Homo sapiens: one gene and its partners. The protein of the gene in region 1 interacts with the protein of each later gene in a pairwise test. Each region holds a gene or a part of one and is shown on either strand. Other genes may lie near its edges.

The links.
Region 2: the proteins of SMAD9 (region 1) and ZSCAN4 interact in a two-hybrid assay, tested with the Homo sapiens proteins (one large-scale study listed by BioGRID and IntAct).
Region 3: the proteins of SMAD9 (region 1) and DSTN interact in a two-hybrid assay, tested with the Homo sapiens proteins (one large-scale study listed by BioGRID and IntAct).
Region 4: the proteins of SMAD9 (region 1) and CYP11A1 interact in a two-hybrid assay, tested with the Homo sapiens proteins (one large-scale study listed by BioGRID and IntAct).
Region 5: the proteins of SMAD9 (region 1) and TBCD interact in a two-hybrid assay, tested with the Homo sapiens proteins (one large-scale study listed by BioGRID and IntAct).
Region 6: the proteins of SMAD9 (region 1) and MAN1A2 interact in a two-hybrid assay, tested with the Homo sapiens proteins (one large-scale study listed by BioGRID and IntAct).
Region 7: the proteins of SMAD9 (region 1) and MTMR11 interact in a two-hybrid assay, tested with the Homo sapiens proteins (one large-scale study listed by BioGRID and IntAct).

Annotation. Positions count from the first base shown.
Region 1 is NC_000013.11:36,875,239-36,878,738, reverse strand, and holds part of SMAD9 (mothers against decapentaplegic homolog 9), read left to right. Parts: intron 1-3,500. UniProt on the Homo sapiens protein: Transcriptional modulator activated by BMP (bone morphogenetic proteins) type 1 receptor kinase. SMAD9 is a receptor-regulated SMAD (R-SMAD).
Region 2 is NC_000019.10:57,675,435-57,678,934, forward strand, and holds part of ZSCAN4 (zinc finger and SCAN domain-containing protein 4), read left to right. Parts: intron 1-606; 5' UTR 607-711; coding exon 712-1,107; intron 1,108-2,479; coding exon 2,480-2,645; intron 2,646-2,731; coding exon 2,732-3,471; 3' UTR 3,472-3,500. UniProt on the Homo sapiens protein: Embryonic stem (ES) cell-specific transcription factor required to regulate ES cell pluripotency. Binds telomeres and plays a key role in genomic stability in ES cells by regulating telomere elongation.
Region 3 is NC_000020.11:17,573,075-17,576,574, forward strand, and holds part of DSTN (destrin), read left to right. Parts: intron 1-3,500. UniProt on the Homo sapiens protein: Actin-depolymerizing protein. Severs actin filaments (F-actin) and binds to actin monomers (G-actin). Acts in a pH-independent manner.
Region 4 is NC_000015.10:74,361,147-74,364,646, forward strand, and holds part of CYP11A1 (cholesterol side-chain cleavage enzyme, mitochondrial isoform a precursor), read right to left. Parts: intron 896-3,500; exon of another isoform or gene 406-895; intron 1-405. UniProt on the Homo sapiens protein: A cytochrome P450 monooxygenase that catalyzes the side-chain hydroxylation and cleavage of cholesterol to pregnenolone, the precursor of most steroid hormones.
Region 5 is NC_000017.11:82,926,565-82,930,064, reverse strand, and holds part of TBCD (tubulin-specific chaperone D), read right to left. Parts: intron 2,880-3,500; coding exon 2,742-2,879; intron 2,161-2,741; coding exon 2,077-2,160; intron 953-2,076; coding exon 794-952; intron 704-793; coding exon 565-703; intron 1-564.
Region 6 is NC_000001.11:117,496,449-117,499,948, forward strand, and holds part of MAN1A2 (mannosyl-oligosaccharide 1,2-alpha-mannosidase IB), read left to right. Parts: intron 1-314; coding exon 315-534; intron 535-2,933; coding exon 2,934-3,106; intron 3,107-3,500. UniProt on the Homo sapiens protein: Involved in the maturation of Asn-linked oligosaccharides. Progressively trim alpha-1,2-linked mannose residues from Man(9)GlcNAc(2) to produce Man(5)GlcNAc(2).
Region 7 is NC_000001.11:149,934,080-149,938,159, reverse strand, and holds the start of MTMR11 (myotubularin-related protein 11), read left to right. Parts: upstream 1-1,280; 5' UTR 1,281-1,498; coding exon of another isoform or gene 1,499-1,512; coding exon 1,513-1,578; exon of another isoform or gene 1,579-1,930; coding exon 1,931-2,006; intron 2,007-2,454; coding exon 2,455-2,576; intron 2,577-2,800; coding exon 2,801-2,861; intron 2,862-3,031; coding exon 3,032-3,174; intron 3,175-3,633; coding exon 3,634-3,712; intron 3,713-3,833; coding exon 3,834-3,969; intron 3,970-4,080.

The DNA of each region.
Region 1 (3,500 bases):
CCCCAAACAACTGAACTGAACTGTACTAAACTGAACTAAGGCAGGGTTTTTGGCTGCTACTTTGTTCAAGTTCAGGTAAGTAGAAGATATCTCATGTCTAGGTCTGAAAACAGCCAATGAAAGAGTTGCTGGAAATCATTCCAGGCAGTTATTTTTAAAAATGGTTTTAAGTACAGACAGGTATCACTTAATGATGGAAATACATTCTGAGAAATGCATCAGTAAGTAATTTCTTCCTTGTGTGAACACCCTGGAGTGTACTTACACAAACCATGAGCCTGCTACACCGTTAGGCTATATGGTGTAGCCTATTGCTCCTAGGCTACTAACCTGCACAGCATGCTACTGTACTAAATACTGTAGGCAATCCTAACCACAATGGTATTGAATGTATATGAACAGATCTAAACATAGAAGAGGTACAGCAAAAGTACAGTATCATAATCTTGGGGGACCACTGTCTTATATTGGTCCCTCAAGCAAAACATGATTACACAGTGCATGATTGTATAGGAAAGTATCTTTCTAAAACCCTTCACACCCCTGTGTGTGTGTGTGTGTGTATGTATATTATATATATGTGTGTAAGAAATATGTATATATTTCCTCCTCCTCTTGGAGAAGCCTGGTGTTTGTCTTTGTTCCTTCACACTGGCTATAACAGGGTTTCACTGTGATTCTCTTAGATTGAGTGTTTCTGTGGCATTTCACACAAGAACACAGTTTTAGGAGAGCTTTCTCTCTTTGGCCATCTGCCTCATCCCAGGAAACCAAAGCGCTGGCACATTAGCTCAGGGAAATTGCCCATGTCCAGTGAAGAGATGGTCCTGTCTACGTAGGCAGGTTCACTTAACCTTAAAACAGTATCCAATAAGTGATTTATGCCCAGCCTACCTCAGTCTTAGCTAAGTGATCCTTCAAGCTCCCAGAACTTAACATCTACCTGTGTGTGGATGCCTCCCACAGCCCATTCAGGGACTGAGGCCCTGGCTGAGAAGGTATTAGAAGGTTCCACATGCTTGGCAAATCTGATGCGTTTCCCCTAAATCCTGGAGCGAGTTGCTTTCCACCCTTCTTCCCTGGTTCATTTTGACTCTTTTCGCTTACTTAAAAAAAAAAGTCAATAATGTCTAAGCTTATAACAAAAATGACTGGATTCCATTTTGTGTTTCAAAGATTTGAATTACATTAAGCATCCAAAATATATCCAAATGGAAAAATGTTCATTAATAAATCATTTCTGTCTTCCTGAATAATGTAGTTGTAAAATTTAACAACTTGTAAGAAATATCTTGTAAAATGTACCTGGTTTTCCTTTTGAATATTCAAAAGCCTAATTTTAAAGAACTATTTGACATTTTAGTTTTTCATGTCTTTTGTTTTTTTGTCTTGCTCTGTTGGCAGGCCGGTGTGCAGTGGCGCAGTCTCTGCTCACTGCAACCGTCACCTCCCCAGTTCAAGCGATTCTCCTGCCTCAGCCTCCTGAGTAGCTGGGACTACAGGCACGTGCCACCATGCCCAGCTACTTTTTGTATTTTTAGTAGAGACGGGGTTTCACCATGTTGGCCAGGATGGTCTCGATCTCTTGACCTCATGATCCACCTGCCTCGTCCTCCCAAAGTGCTGGGATTACAGGCATGAGCCACCATACCTGGCCTTTAGTTTTTCATGTTCTGTAAGATTCTTTTAGGAATGATAGTGTGAGTGTTTTACATATGGTAAATATATTTCATTTTATCATAATTTAGGTGTGAATTTCCAGAAGGAAAGATGGGTAACGATTATATTAATTTAAGGTAATATTTAAGTTACAGAGGTTTTTCTTACTTGTGTTTTTTTAATAGAAAAAGTAGATTTTATATCTAGTTAGCTATCCATATTTAAAGTAAATATTTTAGGAATAATAAAAATGTTAATGTTAAACAAGTTTGCTGAGTTCCTATTTATCATAAAGCTTAAGTTTTGCCTTTGAAATCTCATTTTTTAGCCATCCATTTTAGATACATTGAAGGCTGCATTCCCATTTTCTTTTCATTCACACATCCACTTCAATAATTGACTTCAGTGCTTTCCAAGTTATGTGTGGTGAGGGATCAGTTTTTATTTTTTTAATTTCCAGTCCTTCAAACGAACACTTTTATAGTACAGACAAATTACTAGGCAAATGAAATTTTAAAAAGACTTAGAAAATATAAGCCCAATTTTAAAAATTATTTAAACAAGTGTAAACTAGAAACTCTGTCAAATTGCTGTGAAAAGTTTCTAAGTACTAATTTCTTCACAGACTCGTACCCAACAGTTGGTGAAGGGTCCCCAGTCCTCAGACACACTTTACCTGGCACAGTTCTGGTGGAAGCCATGCAAGACTGTTGTTGTGGTACATGATGATTTTACTCCATTTGGCTGGAGGTTATTTCAGGAGTGTAATTTCTTTTTTATATAAAATATTCATATTATATCAAAACCACATGACTTTTTTTAAAAAGACAGAAGTGTTTTTTTTCCAGCTCTGCTTTGCATGCCCATGTGCCCTGTAACTCCTTCCGCTGTCTCCCCCCGTGTGACACTGAGATGTAAAGATAGCATGGTGTTTAAAAGTGGCATAAGATAGGCATGAGTGTCTGTAAGCGCACTGTCATATTTACAAGCAGCAGTTGAGATGTGGAAGTGGAATTAAGTAATTAGGGATAGCTGTGTTGTGAGTGAAAGTATTTAAAAATATGATCAGTGCACATTTAAGGCAACGGAGCCAGTCAGGTCAAATAACAACTAGGATGAAACTATCAGTTTTCTTTGCAAACATCCACTGGCTTTGATTTTACCCAGATGGTAAAAATATATTATCAAGATAGTTGTTATGATAAAGGGAAATGTATCCTTTCTTTTCTCTTGGTGCCTCAGATCTACAGGCCATGAAGAAATAGAAGTCTCTACATTCAGATGGATAGGAGGCATTATATTTTTATCAGTGTTAGGAATATACCGTAGATATTTTACATTAAAACTGAAGTCACAGAGATGATTCAAATTCTTCTTCATAAAGAAGTGAGTGTTTACTTGAACATCGTTAACATTTTGATGAAGGGTCATTGACAAAGAAGCCATACACATTCGCTGTGTCAACTCCTCACTTCAGACTATTCATGAGGCACATAATCTTTTTTTTTCCTGCATAGTTGTGGAATATGAATACATTAAGGGGAATTTAATGGTTTATGATCCATGTCACTGTTTGATGGTGATGTTGAATGTTTGTTCTCTGGTGTCATAAGGCAGCATACGTATACAATAGCTTAGAAAAGGGGAAGAAATTATTTGTTTCTCTGCCACCCTCACCTGTAGCAGTTTTAGTTTAAAACCTTTTATTTACCCTTCTTAGTTTATTTTCTGTCCATATAACTGAAAATTATTGTTTGTTAAGAAAGAGATAGATGTATGGTGTCAAAGGCAGATGGCAGACTTCGGGGTTAATGTCATTGTTATTGTAATTGTCTGTTTAT
Region 2 (3,500 bases), on another chromosome or scaffold:
ACCACACCCGGCAAGTTTTGTATTTTTAGTAGAGATGGTGCCTCACCATGTTGGCCAGGCTAGTCTCGAACTCCTGACCTCAAGTGATCCGCCCTCCTCGGCCTCCCACAGTTCTGGGATTATAGGAGTGAGCCACTGTGCCCAGCCAAGGATATTTCCTAATAGTTCTAGTTTATTAAGTGCCTTTTTCAGGAATAAACATTGGCATTTAAACATTTTAAATGCATTCATTGAGATGATTTTATTATGTTCTTGTATCCATATCCCGTTAACGAAGTAAATTGCATTGATTTTTGAATTTTAACCCAAACTTCCTGCATTTTGGAAATGAACACCATTTGCGATGTATATGTGAGTAGATTTTATTTTCAAATATTTTGTTTTGGATAATTTTAATGTATTTGTAAAATTTTGTTATCAGGAAGTGCTGACCTCAGTAACTAAAGTGGGTAGTGCTTCCTCTTATATGCTCTGGGAGAGTTTATGTTAAGTTATAATTATTTCTTTGAATTCATCCATAGAGCCATGTAGGCCTAACTTTTTGGTTGATTTGTCTTTAATTATGCCAGTGGTGCAATTAATTACTCATCTCTTTTCTATTTCTAGCTTGCAGTTTTAAAGAATCCACCAACTGTTGAAACAAATCCCTAGAGACACAAGGCAAGAGACTGAATCATCAAAGTAAAGTCTCTCTGAGAATTATTGCTAAGAATGGCTTTAGATCTAAGAACCATATTTCAGTGTGAACCATCCGAGAATAATCTTGGATCAGAAAATTCAGCGTTTCAACAAAGCCAAGGACCTGCTGTTCAGAGAGAAGAAGGGATTTCTGAGTTCTCAAGAATGGTGCTCAATTCATTTCAAGACAGCAATAATTCATATGCAAGGCAGGAATTGCAAAGACTTTATAGGATCTTTCACTCATGGCTGCAACCAGAAAAGCACAGCAAGGATGAAATTATTTCTCTATTAGTCCTGGAGCAGTTTATGATTGGTGGCCACTGCAATGACAAAGCCAGTGTGAAAGAGAAATGGAAATCAAGTGGCAAAAACTTGGAGAGATTCATAGAAGACCTGACTGATGACAGCATAAATCCACCTGCCTTAGTGAGTACAGGGTTCTAACTTCTGGGATGAGAGACAAAGGAAAGTAAGGAATAAATCACAGTCAGTTAGAGTTGTCTGGAAGTTAGAGAAGCTATTGGAGGTCCAGTTATTAGTCAGCTCACACTCTCCCACCATTCTCACAAAGAATAATCTTCAATGTCCTAAGTTCTCAAGAAAAAAAGCAAAAAGGTATATATCTGTTTATTCTGTAGGACATATAGGAGCCAAACATATTGATGTTTGATTAACTTAATTTTAGTCTGCATAATGGCAGACTCTGAGAAATTGACTTTTTGGCATGATATCAGCTCACTGCAACCTATGCCTCCCAGGCACAAGTCATTCTCGTGGCTCAGCCTCCAGAGTAGCTGGGATTACAGGCGTGCTCCACCAAGGCCGGCTAATTTTTGTATTTTTAATAGAGACAGCGTTCCACCATGTTGGCCAGGCGGTCTCGAACTCCTGGCCTCAAGTGATCCGCCTGCCTTGGCCTCCCAAAGTGCTAGGATTACAGGTGTGAGACCAGCCTGAAATTGACATTTAAATGAAGACATCAAGGTTGAGGAAGAAATGTCTTGACAAGAGCTTGTTCTTCTGTCAGGGAACTCTAATCAAGAAAGACATTCTAAAGAAGCAATTACGGTAGATCCTTATTCTCAGAGCCCATATTTGCAAAATTGCTAAAATTTATTTGTAAGCTTAAAATAAATACCTGAGGCATCTTCTCCGTCATTTTCAGATATGTGCAGGTGGTAAAATATTTGATTTACCTTAGGTGCATGTTTCCAGGTGAGGTTGAACAAGGCCACAACCTCACTTCCTATTTTGGTTCCTACAGTGTAAATAAGTGTCCTTTTCACAGTCTATTTAGTGGCACATTTTTTTTTTTGCTTTTTATTGATAACTTTGTTGTTTAAAGTGACACTGAAGTAAAATGCTGAAACACTGTCTAGTCTTCCTAAGTGCAGGAAAGTTGCTATGTATTATGGAGATAATACATGTGTTGGATCCTCTGAGTTCAGGATTAATCAATAATATATATTAAATGGGGTGTCTTTGAACATATACACACATAAAACAAACTCATGTATTGATCAGTTGACAAAAATAATGTAGCCAGAAGCTCACAGGAAACTAACCCTGAATTTTTCCTAGGGGAAATGATTCAGTACTTGTAAATTCAATGTCCATGTGACTTTATTAAACATAAGAGCTTGTAGTAACAAGAATAACACCATCAGAGATGGTGGACAAAATATGTGATAGCCAATACTTGAGGGAGCTTGTGAGAGCCTGTTAAGGACCACTTTTCCAAAAAGTCTTCTGTTACACAACAGATTCAGATACAACAGTGATCTGGCTTTCTTTACAGGTCCACGTCCACATGCAGGGACAGGAAGCTCTCTTTTCTGAGGATATGCCCTTAAGAGATGTCATTGTTCATCTCACAAAACAAGTGAATGCCCAAACCACAAGAGAAGCAAACATGGGGACACCCTCCCAGACTTCCCAAGATACTTCCTTAGAAACAGGACAAGGTAAGTCAGGTGAATCTGCACAACTGAGGAGTGTTCTATGTGGACCCCTTCTTAAGTACAACTTCATTGAGTGTCTATTTTCACAGGATATGAAGATGAACAAGATGGCTGGAACAGTTCTTCGAAAACTACTCGAGTAAATGAAAATATTACTAATCAAGGCAATCAAATAGTTTCCCTAATCATCATCCAGGAAGAGAACGGTCCTAGGCCTGAAGAGGGAGGTGTTTCTTCTGACAACCCATACAACTCAAAAAGAGCAGAGCTAGTCACTGCTAGATCTCAGGAAGGGTCCATAAATGGAATCACTTTCCAAGGTGTCCCTATGGTGATGGGAGCAGGGTGTATCTCTCAACCAGAGCAGTCCTCCCCTGAGTCTGCCCTTACCCACCAGAGCAATGAGGGAAATTCCACATGTGAGGTACATCAGAAAGGATCCCATGGAGTCCAAAAATCATACAAATGTGAAGAATGCCCCAAGGTCTTTAAGTATCTCTGTCACTTATTAGCTCACCAGAGAAGACACAGGAATGAGAGGCCATTTGTTTGTCCCGAGTGTCAAAAAGGCTTCTTCCAGATATCAGACCTACGGGTGCATCAGATAATTCACACAGGAAAGAAGCCTTTCACATGCAGCATGTGTAAAAAGTCCTTCAGCCACAAAACCAACCTGCGGTCTCATGAGAGAATCCACACAGGAGAAAAGCCTTATACATGTCCCTTTTGTAAGACAAGCTACCGCCAGTCATCCACATACCACCGCCATATGAGGACTCATGAGAAAATTACCCTGCCAAGTGTTCCCTCCACACCAGAAGCTTCCTAAGCTGCTGGTCTGATAATGTGTATAAATAT
Region 3 (3,500 bases), on another chromosome or scaffold:
GTTACCTGTTTCCCAGAACACAAAACGGTGGGGTGGATTAACCATCACTGCTTTCTGAGAACACAGAGCTCAGGTAAAGTTCACAGTAGTCACCTGAAATTGATATTCATTGATAGTTCCATACTTTTAGCTACTTAATCATTCATATGTATTGCCTTGATGTGCTTTTAAAACTTACGTAAATACTGTGCTTCATGTATCCTTTTGCAGCTCTGTGAGAAAAAATTAAACTTTGTGGGGGTGGTTTTTTTTTTCCCAGGGGAGGGCAGCTTTTGGATTTATTTGTAGCTTTGGTTCTTCAACTGCTGAATTGTGTTCTTTTGTATGATTGTGCAAGTTTATCCATTCCCCTGTTGATAGACATTCAGCCATTTCCTAATTTTTTGCCTTTTTTTGGTCTATTTAAAGTTTTTATAATAGGCAATTTCCATGTCATATATTGCTATATATTACTTCTCTAGCCCCAGTGTGTATCTCTCCATGGTGTATATCTAGAAGCGGAAGCCCTGGATTGGAGCATACATATTTTCTACTCTACTACTGGTTCGTTCTGGTTGTATCTCATCATTAACAGCTTGTTTCTACATTGCCTTTCACCACTTAATAAGAGACTTGAAACCTTTGCCAGTCTGATGGTTGTGAAATGGTTTCTCATTATTTTATTTTGCATTTCTTTGATTACTAGTGAGCTGACTCTTTTCATATGTTTATTGCATCTTAGGTTTTTACACGCATGCTGCATCCTGCAAACCTGGCCATTCTGTAAATACTTACCATCTTCACCTAAGCTTATTTGCAGAGCCATAAAGTAAATGTAGCAGTAAAAAAAAAAAAAAAAAAATCAGCTGGATACAGTGGCCTATACCTGTCATCCCAGCACGTTGGGAGGTTGAGGCAGGAGGATTGCTTGAAGCCAGGAGTTGGAGACCAGCCTGGACAATATAGTGAGACCTTGTCTGAACAAAAAAATTAAATAAAAATTAACTGGGCATGCTGGCATGTGCCTATACTCCTAGCTATTTGGGGGACTGAGGTGGGAGTATTGCTTGAGCCTGGGTGTTAGAGGCTTCTGTGAGCTATGATTGTACTACTGCACTCCAGCCTGGCCACAGCGGGAGACCCTGTCTCAAAAAACAAGAACATGATTATCAATACCAGAACCTCATACTGAGGAGTAATATTTCTCTTTTCTGGCACATAAATTTCTTTCCAGGCCCCTTAGCCAGCTAATTACCAGAAGTTCAATACTCTCTGTTAATTCTATCCACCTGCCATTTTTAGGCCCCTGGTAGTGGTAGAATGTAGAGTGACTTAGGACAGAGTTCTTTCCTTCTTTGCCAAGGGCTGTGGAGATTAATGTCCTTCACTTTACACTTACCCCTCTCTTTCCTGGCAGTTCTTCTAGCCAAAATGTAAAAGCACACACAGTAGATATATGGGAACAATGCACTTCTGCTAAAATTTGCTGTGTACCTAAAACTTCTCTAAAAAATTAAAAGTCTATAGCTGGGCGTGGTGGCACGTGCCTGTAATCCCAGCTACTCAGGAGGCTGAGGCAGGAGAATCGCTTAAACCCAGGAGGCGGAGGTTGTAGTGAGCTAAGATCGCACCATTGCACTCCAGCCTGGGTGACAGAGCGAGACTCAGTCTCAAAAAAAAAAAAAAAAAAAAAATTAAAAGTCTAAAAAACAAACATGCAAAACAAGTAAACATGACTGACTTTCTTTTCTTTCTCCTTTCCTTTCCTTTTTTTCCTTTCTTTTTTCTTTCTTTTCTTTTTCTTTTCTTTTCTTTTGTTTTTTTTTTTTTTTTTTTTTTGAGACAGACTCTCTTGCAGCCACCCAGGCTGGAGCTCAACTGCAGCCTTGATCTCCTGGGCTCAAATGATCCTCCCACCTCAGCCTGCGGAGTAGCTGGGACTACAGATGTGCACCACCACACCCAGCTAACTTTTTAAAATTTTTTGTAGAAATGAGATTTTGCTACATTGCCCAGACTGGTCTCAAACAATCTTCCCGCTTTGGCCTCCCAAAGTGTTGGGATTACAGGCATGAGCCATTGTGCCTAGTGACTATTTTTCATAAATAGAATTTGTTTAAATCAAAATTGTGTTTAACTTAGTATACAGGAAGACTTCAAATTTTTGAGTTTTTATGTTAATGTAACTTTATATTTTCTTTCAGTAATATTTGAGATGAAGCACACTACATTTGAAATTTGAAAAAAAACTTGCAAGTCTTGAAAAACTGAATTTAACATACAAATGCGTTGATTTTGTCCACAGAACAACACTCTAGTCTCTGAGTAACTAGAGCTAGTCTCTTTGTTGTACTGTCATTTGCATATGTAAACCACAGAGCATAATAAATAAGTAGAATATTGTGAAAGCATTTTTTTTTTTTTTTGGAGACAGGGTCTCATTCTGTTAACCTAGGCTGGAGTGCAGGGGCGTGAACACAACTCACTGCATCGTCCACCCTCAGGCTCAGTCAGTCCTCTACCTCAGCCTCCTGAGTAGCTGGGACTATATATAGGCAGGCACAACCACTCCCAGCTAAGCTTTGTATTTTAAAAGCTTTACATATATAAAGATGGGATTTATAAATATAAATTTATATATAAAGACGGGGTTTATAAAGATGGGGTTTCACCATGTTTGCACAGGCTGGTCTTGAACTCCTGGGCTCAAGTGATCCACCCACTTTGGCCTCTCAAAGTGCTGGGATTACAGGCATGAGCCACTGCGCCCAGCCGTGAAAGTATCTTGAGTTTACTTCTCTTGTGGCATAACATTTCTGTCTAGATTGTCCATGAAAGTCATACACAAAGATTTACACCTAACACTTCAGCAATATTGTAACCACAACTTTTCTTCTGTTCATGCCTCCTTTCATTGATGTTGGAAGTGAGAAGTTTTCACTTGGAATTGTGCTTCTGAATTACCTCCTGCTCATTTTTCTTGAAATTTTACAATTGGGAGAGGCATAGACTTAGACAAATAAACATCGGTTTTATTCATCTCAGTAATACTTTGGGCCAAAATGTTATATTCATCATTGAATCTGCTGTACTAAGACCCCCATTGAGTTGAATATTTAGAGTGATTCTTAGCTCCAAGATTAGTCTTCTAGAAGCTGATACTGTAATACTTACATGCTGCCAACACTATTCCATGTTTTGCTTTGTTATGTTTTACGTAGATTTTTTGTTTGGAGGTTCTAGCAGGGGAGCGCAGCTGCTCATATAACCTTGACCAAAGACCGGTTCTCCTCTATCAGGAATGGTCATCCTCTTTGACCGAGTGCATAGCTTTGAGAGGGATGCACATGGAGTGGTGAGGGAGGAAGGGGACACCTGCCTAGCCAGCCAGATCAGCCGAATCAACCCTGGTGATCAATGGGGTGACAGATGTTGCAGCCAGATCGCCCTCACATCATACGTAGATTTTTTAAAAGCAATTGATTTCAGTAAAAAATGCAATTAAAGTTTTAAAATTAACA
Region 4 (3,500 bases), on another chromosome or scaffold:
TAGATGAATCAGAGGGCCCCTGAAAACATCCAGAAAAGAGGTAAACAGGATTATTTGACATGTTTAGGTACATGGGATTGACAAAATGATGTTAAATCTTCTTTAGGTTATATTTTTGTGAATAATATATTCCAAAATTGTATGGGATTTCTCAAATTCTAATGTCTAAGTATATGTTACCAATCACAATTATAATTATGTTAAGTTATTGTAAACCACAAAAATGACCAAATTTTCTTGTATAAAGCTACTAACCCACGTAAAACAACAACAACAAAAAATTAATTACATATCAAGAAAAGACTTTCATGTTAAACCAGCTAATACTGAAATTGTTTAAAATAGTTTATAACCTGTCGCTTTGCAGATGCCGTCACTGCCACCAGGAGCCCTGTACTATCAGCCATGGTCAACCCCACCGTGTTCTTTGACATCGCAGTCACGGCGAGCCCTTGGGTCACGTCTCCTTTGAGCTGTTTGCAGACAAGATTCCAAAAACAGCAGAAAACTTTCATGCTCTGAGCACTGGAGAGGAAGGATTTGGTTATAAGGGTTCCTGCTTTCACATAATTATTCCAGGATTTATGTGTCAGGGTGGTGACTTCATATGCCATAATGGCACTGGTGGCAAGTCCATCTATGGGGAGAAATTTGATGATGAGAACTTCATCCTAAGGCATACACGTCCTGGCATCTTGTCCATGGCAAATGCTGGATCCAATACAAACGGTTCCCAGTTTTTCATCTGCACTGACAAGACTGAGTGGTGGATGGCAAGCATGTGGTCTTTGGCAAGGTGAAAGAAGGCATGAATATTGTGGAGGCCACGGAGCGCTTTGGGTCCAGGAATGGCAAGACCAGGAAGAAGATCACCATTGCTGACTGTGGACAACTCTAATAAGTTTGACTTGTGTTTTATCTTAACCACCAGACCATTCCTTCTGTAGCTCAGGACAGCACCCTCCACCCCATTTGCTCGCAGTATCCTAGAATCTTTGTGCTCTCGCTGCAGTTCCCTTCCATGCCTAGCTGGACTGCAGAGTTGAGTTAAAGTTTATGATTATGAAATAAAAACTAAATAACAACAAAAAATTGTTTATAACCAATGCTTGATCCCATATTCCTAGGAAAACAATTAAAGCTTCAGGTATATTTGGTCTTCTGGTCAGCCATTTAAACATTTTATAAAGGGATTTCATTCCATTGTTATTTTCCATGCATGTTTTCTGGTTGTAGAAAAGCTTTCCCATGCAAGAGGGCTGATGTTATAACAGTAGATTATTATGCTACAGTGTATTTTCACCAGATTAAAAAAAAAAGCTTTTTATGGTTTGAATCTGCTGGAAACATCAGAGAAAGACTGTCCTTGCCATCTACACTATAACAAAACTTCAGGACCTTGAACTTTGGGTTCATAATCTCACAACTGAGAAGGGCCCCTCCATGCTCTTGGAGCTGTGCACCCACTGGAATGCTTAAGGTAAAACTAACTAGGGAAATTTCTCCCAAGAAGAAGATGACATCATTGATGTGAACAGCTTTTCCCAAGTTCACAGATTAAGACTTCTACTATCATGAAACTCTTATTTTTGAATATTTTTTCTTGCTTATGCCTTCTACGAACAATAGAAGTGGAAAAGGGGTCTGTTATGTGCACTTATGGGGAACATTTTTATTTGTGAAGGAGTTTGCAGCCAGCCTTATACATGGATAAAGGCCCAATGTATGTAAGAAACTTTAATGGTAGATGTGTTAGCTCATAATCAATCAAAAACAAAAAATTGATTCACTCCACATAACCCACATCGTGGGTTAAAGAGAACATTGCCAGAAGTCCTTCACTCTTCTGAAAGGGCATCATTTGTTAGGTCCTTTTTCCATGGTTTAAAGTAAAAGAAGCAATGATTAGAAATGTATCCCTCATGATAGGTTCCATAGCAAATTCTACTCTAAAGGCTACAGACTCTAAATTCTCTTGTGAAAGTTATAATAGAATTGGCTAAACAGCGAAGTATCTGTGCAGCTGCTGGCACTTGTGGCCTATACAGAAATACATCAAATGAAGACTATAGAAATTCAGTGGTAGGAGACTGACAAAGAAATTGATTAGTCAAGTCTCTCTCTGTTGCCCAGGCTGAAGTGCAGTGGCGTGATCTTGGCTCACTGCAACCTCCGACTCCCAGGTTCAAGCAATCCTCCTGCCTTGGCCTCCCAAGTAGCTGGGATTACAGGTGCACGTGACCACACCCAGCCAATTTTTGTATTTTAGTAGAGATGGGGTTTCACCACGTTGGCCAGGCTCATCTTGAACTCCTGACCTCAAGTGAGCCACCTCACCCAGCCGTGAGTAAACTGTATCTAGCTCATTCTTAGATCCATTTGATTTTAGGAGGTTTGGTTTATGGGGACCTTGGGTAAGGAGTATACTCCCAAATTCTTGGTATTATCCTCCTAATAGCCATAATAATGGTCTCCCTGACGAGCTGTATGCTCTCAAAGGTTTTAAATGCTTGCATGAGCCATCTCTAGAATGTCATATGGTCTCTCTTCAACTGGAATAACAGGAGCTCAAAGAAATATGCAACCATGAGGACACCATAACCTATAAATGACATGCTGAGACCAGAAACCCAAAATGATGGTAACTGAGAGTGGCACTGAGGCCCTAGGTTTTGGTCACACTCTCACCTAAGTGAAAACCTGATCAAAAAGGGAATTTTTTTCAACAAAATTCTGGGAGGCCGTTGTTTTGGACTGATCTCATGCACTAGGCCCCAACAAACCAAACAAAACCAAAATGGGGCCACTCATGCCAAGACTTTAAGGAAACACATAGATTCTAGAAAAGACTAGGTTTTGTTTTTTCTTCTGCAAATCACTACAACAAACATTTCTGACAGTATAGGTATCCACCCCCTAAAGTTTCCATTAAATCTTTTAACCAAATTCATTTCCTCTCACCTAGAGACCATCAAGCTTCAGATGATCATGTAACAAAGGTTCCAGCCAGTTCCAAGTGAAGACACCACCCCTGGACATCAAGAAGCTACCCTTCCTCCACTAGATAGAGCAGGGTGAGAGTTCCATGATCCCCAATAGGTAGGGACTATGCCCCAAGCCAGCATGAAGCAGTTACAGAAAAAAGACCATCGGTCCCTCTGCCTCCCATAAAGATTTATGGGGATCACATCTCTTGAAGGGGCAGATGAGGCAGGAAAATAGGGTCTGAAGTGTGAAGATCGATTCACACTTCAGCTATAACAGGAAATATCCTCTCCATAGGGTGTATGACTATGTAACTTGAATACTTCATCCTCTCCATTTACATAAGGTGTATCTGAAGTAACCAATGGAATCCTCTGGGGGTAAATGCCCCACAATTCTGTAACGGGACCTTTGAGCCCCTACGCTCCGCCTGCTCCCACACTGTGGTGTGTATGTTCATTTTCAATAAATCCCTTCATTCCTTCCTTACTTTGTCTGTGCATTTTGTCCAATTC
Region 5 (3,500 bases), on another chromosome or scaffold:
CAGAGGGCACCTCACGTCCTGTTACGTGTTTTCTAGGACTTAGCAGCTGTCACAGGGTTGCCACATAAAGCAGGTCATGACCCAAGGTGCAGGGGCCACGAGTGACAAGATGCAGAGAGGCCTTCAAGTTCCACAGCTCAGCCACAGACCAAGGCTCTGGAGACCCTCCCCACAGACATGAGAAGCTGGGCCTGGAGCCCTGAAAGTGGAGGGCGGAGGCCGATCTAGAACCTGATGGAGCCCAGGTACCCACATGCAGGCATCAGACACAGGTCCTGGAGGATTGAACCCCGAGGGGACGCTGGGAGCTCCAAGGCTGCGGCCGCAGGAAGAGAGTGGCGCTGGCCCTGTCCCACCTTCATCAGACTCAACCATCCCACAGGCCCTAAGCCTCCTGGGTCATGAGGAAGACACTGGGCCCCTGACCCCCTAACCAAATATGCCCGAGAGAGATAGAAAGCAATGGAAGAAAAGGCCCAGCTCCATACATGCTCCCAAGAGACAGGGAAGCACCAGGCACTCCTGGAGCCACCTCCTGCCCCAGCCAGCCCGACGCCTCCTCACCGTCGACTCCGTCAAGCCGCCCAGGGACACGACTAGCCCCAGCAGGACGTGGTAGCGGTAGGTGGGCAGCCCAAGGAGCTGGGTGATGCGTGGGAAGGCCTGGGAAGGTGCACTCCAGTTCACGGAGGCCACATCGGACCTGCAAGAGAGTGAGTGAGACAAGGCCGGGCTGCCAATGATCTCGCCATGGCTGCGGGGCCAGCACGGGGGGCCTACACCCCGACAGTACCTGGGAAACAGCTTTTCCAGTTCTCCTCGGTGGGGCACGTGGGGGATGGGAGGGCTGTCAAAGTGCAGGAGCGTCAGGAACACGCTGGCGGCGTGAGCACGGAAACGGTCAATCTTCTCACTGGCCTGCTGGGCCACACAGCACATGATGCGCTCACAGCTGCAAACCGAGAGCAGGAGGTAAACCAAGGGCGGGCGGTAAATTAAGAGCGGGCGGTAAACTGAGCACAGGCGGTCCGAGCCGTGACTCCAGCCCAAGCACCACGAGGACATGCGGGCTCCTCGGGACATGGTGGCTGAGTTGGCAGCTGACACCAGGACACTGGCTCGGAAGAACCACACTCCGTTACCTTCACATCCCAGGAGCCCAACCCTACAGGTGCGCAGCAAATACATGCTACGTACTTGTTACACATGTGCTACGTGTTACATGCGTGCTGATGAGGTCTTAGGGTTGAAGCAGGGACAACAAATAGGATTACAGGAGCGGGTGGAGAAGAGTGATGGGGACAGAGAGGCCGGGGATGGGGAGAGAGAAGCTGGGGCTGGGGAAGAGATGGGGAGGGGGAAAGAGAAAGAGGTGAGAACTAAGGAAATCAGGCCCTGGGATCCCCACGGCCGAGTGTCCCTGACAGAGAGACTGACAGCAAGGGCAGGGCCTGGACCCCCATGACTCAGTGCCCCCGACAGAGACCCGCAAGGGCAGGGCCTGGACCCCCTGACTGAGTGCCCCTGACAGAGATCCGCAAGGGCAGGGCCTGGACCTCCATGACTCAGTGCCCCCGACAGAGAGACCGACAGAAAGGGCAGGGCCTGGGGGTACCCACAACCCCGTGCCCCCGACAGAGACACACAGCAAGGGCAGGCCCCAATGGCAGCCTCAGGTGCAGGGAACTGAGTGATGGCTCAGCTGGTCCTGGCAGGAGCAGACCCCCAGGTTCAGGGTCCTAAGCTGAGAAGTCCCCACCTCCTGCCCGGCCCTACCCCGGGAAGCTGGCTGTCATCAAACTGGCCAGAGCACCGTTGGAGGCCCAGGCTGGGGAGCAGAGCCTCGTCCTGGGGGCACTGGGCAGAGGAGGATGGGCCCCAGCTCACGCCATGGCTATGGGGGCAGGAGGAGGGGCCTGCACAAACCTGGGGTCAGGGACCAGAGAGGCTCTCTGGGAGGAGGGTGTGTGCCCAGCAGTGCAAATGCCACTGAGCACCAGGACCGCCCGCCCCGCCAGCCTCCCCAAGCTCGGGGCTGCCCTCTAGGATGCAGAAGAGCTGCGACGTGACACTCACGTATGGGCCTCGATCAGCTCAGGCTGGCTCCGAGCCAGCAGAAGTGTCAGATCCATCAGACTGGTCATGGCGGCCTTGCGGACCCTGATGGGACAAGGAGAGGCAGAGACACCCAGCTTGAGAGGGGGGTTCCAACCCTGGTTCTGCCCACCACGCCGGCAGCCTGTGTGAATTCGACACCCGTGACTAACCCCACACAGAGCCCAGGCACGCTGCCAGGGAGTCACGGGGCCTGCAGAGGTTCCCTGTGCGCTACAGGGACGTGTGCAGGGAGCCACCCACAGCCACACACACCGGGGCCCCGAGGCATCCTACACACACAGGCGTTTCAGGGGTTATCAATCCCACTACAGCAAGAAATGTTGGCAAAACCCAATGTAAGCAGCCGGCAGCCTTTCATTGAAGACGCGTCCTCCCTCACACCCTGTCAACGAGGACGACACAGGCCCAACACCTGAGGACGGGCTGGACAAGCACCTGCAAAGCCCTGCCACGCAGGCTCACCCGGGAGCAGAGAACAGGTCATCTTCCCCAGAGCCTTTAAAACGCAAAACACGGCACAAATCTACAAAGATTTCTCCCTGCAGAAAAGCCCGGGGCCTCCGAGTTTCCACGGAATAGATGGGCTTCTCAGAAGAAGCGCTCACCCACTGCTACGTACGTACCAGGTGCCCACGTCCCCTCTGCTGTCCGTGGTGTAGTCGTCCATGCAGCCCAGCAGCGCACAGTAAATCTGGGAAACATTCTCTCCGCACACAGCTTCGTCTGGGGCTCCTGCTTTCACACCAACAGTCTGGCAAATCCTGAAATTTAAAATGTGTGAGCTAACAAACAAACATCGGTGAGCCTCATCTTCCACATCGCAGAGGGCTGATGTGTGTTCCTGATCCTGAGAAGACACGCTCAGAACAGTCCAGGACCCTCGGGTAGATCAGAAACACAGAGCTCCTTCCACATGTATGGAACGTGGGACGTGCTTCCCCGAGGTCACGCTCTGCCGTCTCTCCGGTTGAAAGGTGGATGGGGACGCCCCCTGCGGCTGGTCCCTCCCACTTCCCACCCTGACTAGAGGGAACGGATGCTGGCATAGGAGAGAAGGGGGCGTGCGTGGCCCCCGCGGGACTGCTCCTCTTGTGTGCCTGCAGGGAGGAGAGGGCATATGGCGTGGCCCCAGGTGCGTGTCTGTCAACGAGTGCAGAGATCATTCCAAACACTGGCTGGCAGGGTCAGCTCCTCTTTGCCAACCTTGGGCCAGGACACATTCTCCAATTCTCCAAGGGGCCCAGTGTCCCTAAAGAAGTTTAACATTCACTACGACTATGACAGCAAGAGAATGAAAGAGCCTCCAGCAGCTGGGACTGACGATCCTCTGGAAGAGAGGAAACCTAGGAAGTGAAGAATCATAAGTCCTGCCTCTGAGCAAA
Region 6 (3,500 bases), on another chromosome or scaffold:
CAAAGCATCCAAAACAAATGCCTAAATTTGAGAAGTAAGGGACTAAAGATAATATTATGTAGAAGGTAATCTTTAGGCCAAGTCTCTCCTCTTCCACTCTGTCTTATTATGGTAGTGATTCAGATATTGGTTCCAGATTATATGCAATTTGATCACCCACTCCGACACTTGCTGTTAATTAAGTCTCAGTTTGGGAAAGTTACTACTTTATAGACTATCATATTACCCAGGTTTTATAATGGCCAGAAGGATATAGTAAGTTTGAACACTAATAGTTTGCATCTAAAATTTTGAATATCTTTTCTTTCCTGTAGGCTATAGAAAAACATCTTATTAAGAAGTCTCGTGGAGGTCTTACCTTTATTGGAGAATGGAAGAATGGGCACTTGGAAAAAAAGATGGGGCATTTGGCCTGCTTTGCTGGGGGAATGTTTGCACTAGGAGCAGATGGTTCCAGAGCAGATAAAGCTGGTCATTATTTAGAGCTAGGGGCAGAAATTGCACGTACTTGTCATGAGTCATATGACAGAACTGGTAAGAATATTAATAAGGCTAATTATATAGTCTAAAATAATCTCTAAGTTAAAAATGTGTTCAGCAATAAGAAGGAGAATATATAGGCACTTTTTACTTCCAAATAGTTTACACCAACAAGGCAAATCATTTTCTTAAGAACTTGAATTTTAATTCTGGAAATGTGTCTCTGCATTATTTTTTAAATTCTGAATTCTGCTGCTGTTTCTGTTAAAGATTTTGAAGTAATTGTTTTAAAGACAAGAATCGTGGGGTATTTGGGAATATATGGAATAACTTTTAATATAAGAATCTATTTTTGCCATTTCAGCTTCTATAAAAACAGTTACTTAAAAGAACATAAAATTGACTGACTTCAGTTATATTGCCTTGCCTATCCTCTTGTGATAAGAAGAATAACCAAAAGATAACAATATTTATCTTTATTGGTATCTGGCTAACTAGTAGTTTTTCAATTAGTTCACCAGTAGTTTTTGGAATTGTTTATGGCTTTAACTAAAAAGATCCTCTGACATTGCACTGGGCAAATATTTTCTGAACTTCAGTGTCCTTACTTGGAAAAGGAGATGATTCCTAAATGGTGACAAAAATTGTTTTGGTTGGGGCTGAGAAAATTTTTACTCTTTTTATGTATAAAGCACAGATATACATATAGTCATAAATAGATACACAGTATATATTTGGTATTAAAATTTTATGGAGGGAGAAGGCAATTAGGCTTTTTTAAAAAAGACAAAAGGTTTCTTAGGGGTGCAGTAATGAAAAGGGGGCTGAAAAACACTGGACTAGACCTTCCAAGGTTTTCTCTGGCTTTAAAAACATGAGTTTCTATATGAAGTAATAGATAATGAGCTCCCTGAAAGCCAAAAAACTAGAAATTTCTATTTGATTTCGGAAGTTGAATTGTTGATTTTATTAAATAACAATTTCTGTTTTAGGGTTAATTTATCATCAGATACCATGAAACAAATATGATTGACCTAAAATTTATGCTAGTTCATAAATCTGTCAAGTTATTTTTATACAGTAAGGAATTAAACTTATGGCAAAATTGATTCTTCAGTTCTCATTAACTAAATAAGGGTTCCATTTCTTGAAAGAATATAAGTCAAGAGGACGGTGAAGTAGTGTTATTTTAGGGTAGTTTAAGTGTTGTTGTATAATACATATAATGGCAGCGATCTGAGTTCAAAATAGAGGCTAAATTAAATTATCGTGTTGATACAGAATGCCAATTATGCCTTAAAATATAGCTAAAATTAGTAAAACATTGAGGACCAGGATGGATATTCAATTTTATATTAGGATCCATGAGAATAAGGATTGTTATTTTGCAGATTTTGACCAAAAATCAAATAATAGACCTAAAATAATTGAATTTCATATAGCATACATTCTAAAATATGGTATATCATAGTTACTATAATTAAATATTTACTCCATGAAACAGGGAACAGCCATTATATGCCAAGTATTATGCTAGATGCTTATAGGTTAAAGTATGAACAAGATACATTCCCTGCCTTTCAGAAATTCATAGTGTACCAGAGTTTGAAAGGATTTCCTTATATTTCTGATTTTAATGTTTCATAATGACATTGCTGATGCTGATTCTTGTTCTGATTGTCATTTTCACATTGCAAGTTGATGAACCCATGACCCTCTTTGTTATGGTAAACCAAAAAATGATTATTTGATTTGTGTCCTGTATTTTCAAGTCTTCTGTTGTTTTTACTTGTCTTTAATCTCAATTTAGATCCTTTAATTAAAAAGTACAATCCTAGTTTTGCTAACTTTCCAGCAGGTTATTATATCCTCTGCTGTGTTTTCTTATAGCTGTGCTATAATTTTTGGCCACCATATTTTAAAATATCCATTCATTTTTCCTTAGTAGTTATTCCAGCTAAATATATACTGTAATTATCTACAACTAAATCAATTCATAATCTAAGCTCTAAAATGTTTCCTTATATGTGTGTATTATGGCAAAATGTCTTTAAAATTACCTTGCCTTTAAAAAAAACATCCACACAGTGTCATTATCTATATACTTTTATTTTAGACCACAATGGACTGTATGATGTGCAAATGTCTAGTTTGCATTTGTTTCCAAAAGATTACTAGACTCTTTTTGGTAGAATTAGATTTAGCAGTATGTTGATACACATTATTCTGAGAAACATTTTATGTTAGAATAACAGGAATGTTTATAAGTCTATTTTAAGAAAACCAAATGTGGATCTTTTAAAATGACTCATTTTGCACTGAGTGCAAACAGCAACAATAAAAATAAACAACAAAAATTACTTCATATTCTGTTCTTTCAGGGAAGAAAGAAGTCCTTGCAAACAAACATAAATGGTTTATTTTGCTCAGTTATTTCTTTTGTCATGTTACAGCATTAAAGCTAGGTCCTGAATCATTCAAGTTTGATGGTGCAGTGGAGGCTGTGGCTGTCCGGCAGGCTGAAAAGTATTATATCCTCCGTCCAGAAGTAATTGAAACCTATTGGTACCTATGGCGATTCACTCACGATCCAAGATACAGGCAGTGGGGCTGGGAAGCAGCACTGGTAAATAAGCCAATATTCCATTTTATCTGCAAGAGTGTTAACTCATGCCCTCCTATGATGCCACATACCCTCACCCATGTTACCTCATTTTTAGTATCTGTAGGGCAGTTTTTATTTATCTGATGAAGAAACTCTTAGTCAATTTAAGTTTCTGGGCAGTAGAAATAAATCTTACGATATATATTAAATATATATTAAAATATATTAAAAATATATAAATATATATATTTCAAAGGAGGAATTTTTAATGGTTAGTTAAGTAAAGGAAGCAAGTGGTTTACTCTTAAAGTCTTTCAGGGAATCCATAGCTATCAGTACCTAGGGAGGAAAAAACTATTAGTCTTTTATGAAAGTATAGCTTATTCCCAGGGTAAGGGGTTGTTTTATTCTTTGA
Region 7 (4,080 bases), on another chromosome or scaffold:
AGACCTTGGGAAATATTTTCTTCCCCCAAGAGGTTGAGGCCCATGGAATGCATTAGGGGCAGGTGGGGTGGTGGTGCTCTGTAGCCTTTAGGACTTCTAGAATCAGGCTTCTGGGCCACCTTCTTAGCAGGTGTATACCTCTTTGTTCCAGACTGACTTTCTGTCTCACAATATCTTCACTATTTCCACAGTTGCAGCCAAGACAGGAAACTGAAAGCTGAGGCCAGAAGGGTGGTGTACTGGGGGGAGGGGAAAATTGAGTGTCACTTTGGAAAACTGGGGCCCCCATCTAAGGATTGCTGCCTCTGTAGATTCAAAAGCAATAAAACAGCAGCTCATTAACTCTTATTTTGTATTTTATTTTCTGTCTTTTTCATGTCTAAATAAAGATTTTTGCTTTGCTGTCCCCAAGTCCCCCTCCTTTAAAGGAGCTGCAGCTCCTTCTCTCCTTGTTCCCAGCTTTCCTTACCCATCTTTGCTTCTAGGGTTGCAGATGGGAGGGACGGGGGATGGACTGCTGAGCTGAAGAGAGGTTTCCAGCCCTCACCTGTGAAAGTCCTGAACATGAATCATTCATTTGGAGATCTGGTGTCTGGGTTGGAGGGGTGGAGTCACATACGGGAATGGGCACTTATTGCCTATTGGTTGTGTATCTACGTGATGGGCAAGATTAACTGGTAAGATCTTTTTGTCCCACCCACATCCCCAAGACTTGCACACAAACTGTACTTGTGTCTGCATCTTGGACACATTTCCATCTCTTTTTATACTTCTCCACTGCAGTCTTCACATGATGTCTGTGTCATGCCCTCTAGAGAAAGATATGCAAAACCACTTTAACCAGTTTCCCTGCTTCCTCACCTAATTCTTGGGCCTCTGCTGACAAAAATCCCCCCAGGTCTAATTTTCATTTTCTTCTGGAAGAGGCGGCAAGGAGGCTTGAACCACTTTCACATTCCTACCCCTCTCCCCGCCCCAAACCCCTTTGAGAAGACAAAAGAACGGAGCTTTTAAGGGAAGTCATCACTGAGACACTCCAGACAGGTAGCCCAGATGATTCCAGCTTCATAATCAATAGAACTGCTCCCCTCAAACGGTCTCCAGTACTCATGAACAGGAAGAGAACAGGGTCTGGGATTGGGGTAAAGAAGGGAGTCGTTTTTCTCTCAGTCCCCATTTCTTCCCCACCCGTCCGTCTCAGACTCCACCGTTTCCTCTCCACTTTTCCAGAATTGTGTGTATTCTCCTTTAAGGGGTTGGGCATCTCTCCCGCCCTCTCCAGAGTCGACTGAAGTTTCCGAGGAGACTTCTCAGGCTGGGCTGGACACACCTTTCCAAGGACCCCCAAACTCTGCTCCGTGCACGTCAAATGCTCCTTTCCCTTGTGTCCAACCCCCTACCCCTCTCCCTAACACCCCTCTTCTCAACAAGACTCAGCCTCTCCCCGAGGTGGGTGAGCATCCTTGAGGTTTCCCACCCTTAACTGCTGTGTCCCCGGATGGAGCCAGAGAAATGTGGTGGGGGGGCCGGGGCCAGAGTTTCAACATTGCCCCCCAGAAGGAGGAGCCAGAGATGGGGGTAAGGAGAAGGAATTTGGGGGGTGTCGGCAAGAGGGTGAGAACGGGGATGAGGTGGAGATAAAAGGGGGAAGCAAAGGCTCTAGAGGAGGAGGAGGAGGGTGTGTCTGTCTATCAGCTTCTGCTGATGGAGCCTGGTCCGTCTTTCTCAGTCTCAAGTTCGTTGTCTCATTATCCATTAACCAGCCCCTCCCTTTACTGTTTACCAGCCCTGTTAGGTCTGGAGCTCCCCACAGACACTGATCTCAGTTTCCCCCGAGAGTGTGAGTGTAGGCCTCTACAGGCAGCTGCCTCTGGGGAGTTGGGGAGCCTAGGGGTTAACTCTAGACCCCCCTCAACCCTCTGGACCAAAGTCTGTCCAGGAAAATAGGATGCCGGAGCCCAGGAGTCGTCAGCCTAGCAGTTGCCTGGCCTCCAGATGCCTCCCAGGTAATAATGCCCTATCACTCTCCAAAGACTTCCAAATTTCATCCTACGCCAATCTTGTTTCATGCCCTCACCAAAGATACCCCTGTGTTCCTCTCGTGGCTCGAAGTACGTCTGCCTGAGGCTCGCTGTCCTCCCTGACAGCCTCTAGAGCTGGCTGAGAGCTGGACCTTGACATTCCTTCTGTTTCCTTGACCCTGTTACCCCTTTTCAAATTTACTTATTCGATACATAGTTAGTGCCTGCTATGTGCCAGGCCTTGTTCTAGGCTCTGTTCTAGTTACAGAAATTAAAAAACATTTATCTTTCCTCATAAGCTTACATTGTAGTGGGCTTTGGGGAGGATTTTAATCTTCCCTATTTAGATCTCCCTTTCTTGGAGGGGTGGGTGTATCCAAGTGTGGGCAACACTGGGAACAGTCATAACAGGGCTTCCCTTCTTCCCCTTTAGGGGAGCAGATCCTAGCATGGGCCCCAGGGGTGAGGAAGGGCCTGGAACCAGAATTGTCTGGAACCCTGATCTGTACCAACTTTAGGGTCACCTTCCAGCCCTGTGGATGGCAGTGGAATCAGGTGAGATGGTTGGGGCCACAGAAATGACAGCTAGTGGGAAATGGGTAGGGGAGTCTAGCAGGATTTAGACAAACATTATGGGTTAAGGGCTGTCTTTTGAATGTATCATTGATAATCAGTGGGAACTCTCTCTAGGGTTGTTGCCCCCTAGAAGGGGTTGGGGCTGCCAGGGTAGGAAAATGAGGGCGATTTCAGATGTCTACCCAGTCACGTGTTTCGTCTAGGACACTCCCTTGAACAGTGAATACGATTTTGCCCTGGTCAACATTGGACGATTAGAGGCTGGTAAGTTGGGGGGGGGTTTGGTGAAGGGGTTCACTGGGGTTGTTGGAACTCCCTCCTCATCCTTCCTCTGTTCTCAGAAAACAGCAGGGATGGAGTGGGATGGGCTGCAAGAGTCCCTTCTGGAGAGACTCTGGTCCATGGTTACACTGTTCTGTACCTCTTGACTTCAGTGAGCGGCTTGTCCCGAGTCCAGCTCCTCCGTCCAGGGTCCCTGCATAAATTTATCCCTGAGGAGATTCTGATTCATGGCCGAGACTTCCGGCTGCTCAGAGTTGGTTTTGAGGCTGGAGGCCTAGAGCCTCAGGCTTTTCAGGTAAGAGGCCCCTAACCTGAGGCTTTCTCCTCACCTCAGAACCTTGGGATCCTCTCCCTGACAATTTCTGAGACTCCTCCAGCCCCTGGGATCCTCTCATCATTCCCCCTGCTTCTCTCAAGGAAAGGCTAAAAGGCTGGGATAAATGATTGCGTGATGAGAGTAAAGAGCCTGCGCTCTAGCCTTACTCTATTAATTACCAGCAGTGTGACTGTGGGCAAGTTTCCTCCTCTGAAAAACCAGGATTCCTCCCAGAATCATCATTCTAGGATTCTGTGGTTCCAGATTTGTTCTCCCGACCCCAGTCCCCATGACCTGAGGAAGCCCCCTTCTCTAGGGACTGTCTTCACTGTTCTTCTTCATTCTTGGCAAAGAGAGTGGAGCAACACATGGGCTCCATTTCCTTCTTTTCACTTACTCAGCCTAAGCCAAAAGGATGGAATGTCCTTTCCTCTGCAGGTGACCATGGCCATTGTCCAAGCCAGAGCTCAGAGCAATCAAGCCCAACAGTATTCGGGGATAACCCTGAGCAAGGCTGGTGAGTGAGAGTGCTTTAGGGTAAGGAAGAGTCTGAAAAAGCAGAGGATGGCTGATGACAAAGAGCTGAGAAGCTGTCTCTGATTTTCTCCTTCCTCCTCTATGTCTCACTCCTGTTCTAGGCCAGGGTTCTGGCTCCAGAAAACCACCAATTCCTCTCATGGAGACAGCGGAAGACTGGGAGACTGAGCGGAAGAAGCAGGCAGCCAGAGGCTGGAGGGTCAGCACGGTCAACGAGAGGTTCGACGTAGCCACCAGGTGATCCCCCAGTGCACCCCAACCCTGCTGCTCTCCCAATCTTCCCTTAGTTCCTTGATCCTCTAAAGCTAGGACTTCCCACAAACTCCAGCCTCCTAGGACACCCACAAA